2 separate regions of the Homo sapiens genome follow, and region 2 is linked to region 1. The links come from fine-mapping of genetic effects on gene expression. A gene starts in region 1. The other region holds a variant in brackets. All regions are shown on one strand. Distances are between the middles of the regions.

Region 1 (2,907 bases):
CCAGTCTGGCTGGCGTATCTCACTCCACACCCCAAGCTAGTGTCATAAACCATTTTCCCCAAGAGAAACCTAGAGAAAGATACATAAGCCTAAGGCTCTTAAAAAAAAAAATGAAGCATGTGTCTTCACCTCGCCTTACACTTTTCTCAGTTACCTCTCCCGAGGGTGTGAAAATATCAACATCCGGTCGCCCACCCCCACTCTCTCAGCAGTGCCTCGCATTGACTCTGCCCATCCCCTATCATTCCCTTTACAGTCTCATCACCTTGGAGAAGCCCATCGAATATTTCTTCCCATTGCTCCCCCACCCTTATTCATGGCTCAGCGCGATATTCTCCACATTTTTCTCCCAAGAAGTGGCAAAAAAGAAAGCAGCATGGTCGACGACGAAACCGGGGAGGCCTGACAACCAGACGGCAGTTTAAGGCGACGGAACTGGCTCTTTCCCCCCATCTCGGCCTCCGACCAGCAGTCGGTTCTCTAAATGTGAAATCGCTGGTCTTCCCGCTCCCCCACCCCCATCCCCATCCCCGTCAGAGGCCAAGCCGGTAAAATGCAAAGACCAAGGGGAAGCGCGAGGCAGGGTCATCCCTAACGAAGCCCGCTCCCTCCCGGGCTGGTGTCCCCGGGGGGGGGCTGGAGATTGCGGGAGGAGGAGCGAGCGGCCCTCGCCCAGAGACCCCCGGAGACGCGACCCTCGACACCCGGGCCCTTTCCCCACCCGGCTTCCCTCCCCCGCGGCCCGATCCGGAGAACTGCAGCAGCGCCCGGGCGGACCCCAAGCCGGCCTCACTGGCACACACGCCACACACAAAAGCGCCGCGGCCGCCGCCTTCCCACCCCCACAGCCCGGCGAAGCAATCAATGAGGCGGCCGGCGCCCGCGTCCCCTCCGTGCACACCCGAACACGGGGCCGAGCGGGCCAGCGGGGCTGGCAGCGCGGCTCACCATCGCTGCGCTTGATCTCCACGTAAATCCCGATCTGGATCTTGCCGAAGTTGGCCGTTGCCATCACCTCATCTGGAGCAGCAGCAGCGGGCCGAGGGAGGGGGACCGGAGGGCGGAAAAGGCGGGGAGGGGGCGGGGTAGGTGTGGGAGGGGGAGCGGTTGCCCGCGGCCGCGCCGGCCCGGGCGACAGCGTGAACGCAAGCGGGGCCGCAAGGAGCAGCTGTGGGGAAGCAGGCGGAGGCCCCGGGCCTGCAGGCCGGCAGGAGGACGCGCACGCCGGGTAGTCGGGGTGAAGCTAGGGCCGGGGCCGTGAGACGGCGCGGGGTAGAGTGGGAGGGCCCGCACCGCCCGCCGGGGAGCCGACGCTGGGGAGGCGGGGCGCCGCGCGCCTGCGCAGAGCGCGCCTCCGGCGTCTCTTCTTCCTTTTCGGCTGGCCTCTCCCCGCTGCCTCCAGGCGGCCCCGCCCAGCTCTGCAGCGGGGTGGGCGGCGGCCGCGGCTTACCCAGCCGCTGGAGCGTTGAGCGCTCGGCCCGGCCCACAGCTAGCCGGCGTCGCGTTTGATTTCAGCGCGCGGCCTAGAAGACGCGGGAAGCGTCGCGCCGAGCTTTCTTGCCCTCTCGCTTCCGGGAATTGGCGCTGTTGCCGGAATGGGTTAAAGGCCACGTGGTTTCAGGGGCTTTCTAGCGGGCTGAGGGATGTGAATTCAAGGGCCCTCCGTTGACAGTACGGGATCCGGGTTTTCATCGGAAGGTGGCACCCCCTATTTCCACTTACAGGTAGCTGACCCAAGCAGCCCTCCCAAGCACACTTGGTGTAGGTTTCCCATCCAGTTACGCTGGAAGGGAAGAAACACCCTTGAGGTGTCACCTACCCTAAATCGAAATGAAGATCCACCCCTTTACAGTCTTGCCTTATAGTTTATCACACTCAGAAAGAAGCTCTGTGGTGGGGCGTCCTTAACTGTTCAGGTTATGAGGCATCCGATGCTGGTGCCCTGTTTCTGCTGAGGGTTCAAGACTTACTTGCCTTGGCCTGTAAAGCCAACAACTGTGACTCAAGGGAAGAAGGCAGACACATAAGGTTGACTAGGGAATGTGTCTTTTTGCAATAATTTAATTAGTCTGACCACATCAGCAATGTGGAAAGCAAGACTCTCCATCCTGGCAGAGCAGGAAGGCCACGTGTACCGGGGCCCTGGAAACTGTATTTATAGCACCGTGTGAAAACCTCCAAACGTCTAACTCCTGCTTGTAGTACTGGCAATTGATAGGTTGGAAACAACACTTTTCATGGCCTACTTTCCCTAGTCATTGTTTTTTGTTGTTGTTGTTTTGTTTTGTTTGTTTTTGAGGGGGAGTCTTGCTCTGTCGCTCAGGCTGGAGTGCAGTGGCGCGATCTCCGCTCACTGCAATCTCTGCCTCCTGTGTTCAAGCGATTCTCACGCCTCAGCCTTCCGAGTAGGTGGGATTACAGGCCCGCGCCACCACGCCTGGCTAATTTTTGTATTTTTAGTAGAGACGGGGTTTCACCATGTTGGCCAGGCTGGTCTCAAACTCCTGACCTCAGGTAATCCACCCGCCTCCACCACCCAGAGTGCTGAGATTACAGGCATGAGCCACTGCGCCCGGCCTTCCCTAGTCATTGATAATCTCCCTGTAACAATAACTACAAATATACAATTTAAAATTTTAAAATTGGAAACTGGATATATACATCAATGCTTATGTGGATATATGTGTGCCTAGAGTTTTCTATCTAATGTAAGTAATCATGTAGGTCCTTAAAAAACTGTTAAAAGACTGGCTTCATCTGTAGCTTGAACATATTGAAGGTATACCTGTCAAAAGAACAATTCTATTGAATCCATTCTAAAGTGCATATAATTTCTATGGAAAAAAAACCACACTGGATAGACAATGTGGAAAATAACTTCTTTTACATTCCAGAAATGACACACTT
Region 2 (2,907 bases), 69 kb after region 1:
TCAATGTCATGCTGAGGATATAAAGGCCGAGGGACAAATGTGGCAGGGGATGGGTTCAATTTATCTGATGCAACCCTGCTGAAATTGTCTTTTTCTACAGACATTTTATCAAGTCATAGGAGAGTTTAACTTTCTCTCTTTCCTAATTAGTTCTATGAACTTATCTATTTTCCTCATATTTTCTAACCCAGTCCTGGAGAGAAATTTGACCTTTATAATGACTACAATATATCAAGTACTTATGATATGCCAGGTAAAATGCTAAATATTACATGTATTATTATAATTATTTGAGACAGGGTCTCACTCCTGTCTCCCAGACTGGAGTGTAGTGGTACCGTCTTGGCTCACAGCAGCCTCAAATTTCAAAGTTCAGGTGATCCTCCCACCTCAGGCCCCCGAGTAGCTGGGACTACAGGCAAGTGCCACCATGCCTGCCTGGTGTGTGTGTGTGTGTGTGTGTGTGTGTGTGTGTGTGTATTTTTGGTAGAGATGGCGTTTCACCATGTTGCTAGGGTGGTCAAACTCCTGGGCTCAAGCAATCCACTCACCTCAGCCTCCCAAAGTGCTGGGATTACAGGCGTGAGCCACCGTGCCTGGCCTGTGATACATATTATTGCATTGAATCCCCAAGTAAGTTAGAGATTCTTAGTCTCTCTACAGTTAAGGAAACCAAGGCTCAGCAGGATCATACAGCAAGATTTCCCCTGACTGCATGGCTAGTAAGTGTTGAGGCTGAGATTCTAACTGAGGTCTATCTCATGGAAAACCCACGCTCACAGCCACTGTGCTGTGTGCTCTTCCTGTCTGGATGTGGTCCTTGTCAGGGTACCTCAGTGTTCTCAAGAGGCACCTCTGGCTTCTGAGATGTAGACAGAAACATCTAGGTATTAGGTTGGTGCAAAAGTAATTGCAGTTTTTGCCATTAAAAGTATGTTTAAGAATTAACATCCCGAATGAAAGGTACTTGAAGTTTAAGCCACTCTGATTACTAATACGATACATAGTGTAGTAGTAACGTATGCCTGAGACCCAGCCTAATATTCTTCTTTGAATTCACACTTAACACTCACTCACACAACCAATTTTATTGAAGCTCTCTTTGTGCAAGAAAGTCCACTTTGAAACTAGAGTTCTCCAGGGAAACAAAAGCCTCCTTAGAAACAATGTTGGAATCTGGATTGCTGTGGAAGAAACTTAAAAAGCTTGAGTCCCTTCCA[C/G]TTCTATTCTTGGATGGGTTTTGGCTCCTAGCTGGTTCAGAAATTCTTTATCCTCATTTAGATTCTCTAAGGGAGTGGCTCATTCCAGCCCAGCGCAGCCTCATTCTGCCCATAGCAGGTTTCCACCCTGGCTCTGCTCCCCCGCAGGGCGAGCACCAGGAGGGGACAGCTGCTGGGCCCACTTTGCATAGGGGCATGTATGACCCAGGCAGGGCTGACTCTCTGCGGAAAAACCTCAGGGCTGCTTTCTGGCTTTAGTCATATTCGTTAGATGAAACTTGTGGGTGTTACTAAGACATTCTGCGCCCTGAAATTGGGAGTGGTTTTGAAAACTGGTCTCAACTATTAGATTCCGAACCACTAAGCTTCCACATTTACTGACAGTTATATGCAGCAAAGAAGTTTTTCTCATTGCCTGCTTTTCTATCCTTCTATGTGCAAACACTATGTATCTTATTAGTATTTAGAGTGGCTTAAACTTCAAGTACCTTTCATTAGGGATGTTAATTCTTAAATATACTTTTAATGGCAAAAACCGCAATTACTTTTGCACCAACCTAAAACCTAGATGTTTCTGTCTACATAGTCAGATAGTGAGTGGAGGCAGTGCAAGAGATGTCAGTTTTGCAGCTTGCTTTTCTTCAGTTCCTTGCATCAGATTCTGTTCTCTGTTCTGATTCTCTTTTCAGACACCTGTTTCTCCTCGTTTTCTAGTTTCTGGTAGTATTACCTCGGAATCTAGAACTAACCCCCGAGTGCTCCTTGGCTGAGAGCACTTCAATACCTAATGGATGATAACAGGATCTAACATGGAGTTGTGGGGAAATCATGGACACAGGATTTATTTATTTAATAAATATATTTATTGTCACTACATGGAGAGTACACCAACTCACCTCTGGATGAGTGGGGAAACTGCTGTTATGAGGTCATTTCCCCAAAATGACTCTTTTGTTATCATGTCAGGGTGGCTTTACTTCCACCATTAGTTGCTTCTTTTTTTTTTTTTTTTTTTTTTTTGAGATGGAATCTCGCTCTGTTGCTCAGACTGGAGTGCAGTTGCGTGATCTTGGCTCACTGCAACCTCCGCCTCCTGGGTTCAAGTGATTCTTGTGCCTTAGCCTCCCAAATAGCTGGGACTACAGGCATGCACCACCACGCCCGGCTAATTTTTGTATTTTTAGTAGAGACAGGGTTTCACCATGTTGGCCAGGCTGGCTGGTACTCGTGACCTTAAGGGATCTGCCTATCCTGGCTTCCCAAAGTGCTGGGATTACAGGTGTGAGCCACCGTGTTCAGCCTGCTTCCTTTTTTAAAACCAATTTTTTCCTATGCTGGTATTCAAGGAAATGTTACTAAGCATACAGTAAAAGGTGCTCAAAGTGCACATAAACCTGGGACATGTTGGAGTTAAACGAAACTAAATAGTTTTCTTAGCTGCAGGCTGCCCAGAGCCTGCAACATGCGAATGTGTGTCATAATTGTTCACAAAGGGCTCCATCATGTTAAGCATTTCCTAGTTATTTGACCATAGAACTTCTTTTTTCATAGTTAAGTCTATTAATAGCTCCTAGAACAGAGTTCCAACGATCATTGTGTGATGAACACTGAAGATCTTTTTCAAAAGCTTTGAAGGTTCTTGTCAAAAGTACATGCATTATCCAGGAGAGGAAATGCAATTGACCAC

Direction of the effects. Positions count from the first base shown, and alleles are read on the strand shown. Sizes are in standard deviations (SD) of each study's normalised expression.
With allele C in place of G in region 2, the expression in gastroesophageal junction of the gene that starts at base 1,279 in region 1 is lower (moderate effect, 0.57 SD a copy in GTEx).

Evidence for each region. PIP is the estimated chance that this variant, and not a neighbour inherited with it, causes the effect. A credible set is the group of variants that fine-mapping cannot tell apart.
Region 2: its variant is the best candidate, but not a certain one, in a credible set for the expression of KIF2A in gastroesophageal junction (GTEx, PIP 0.77).

What each region holds. Positions count from the first base shown.
Region 1 is chr5:62,304,578-62,307,484 of GRCh38, reverse strand. KIF2A (kinesin family member 2A) reads right to left here and starts at 1,279. Exons shown (of 21, transcript NM_001098511.3): 1 at 949-1,279. The coding sequence starts at 1,012. RefSeq lists a silencer at 546-1,575.
Region 2 is chr5:62,235,268-62,238,174 of GRCh38, reverse strand. No RefSeq gene overlaps it. Among named protein-coding and RNA genes, the nearest start is that of KIF2A, 69 kb to the left of the region's middle. RefSeq lists enhancers at 858-1,357, 1,605-1,804, 1,358-1,859. The variant C/G (reference allele first, on the strand shown) is at 1,221.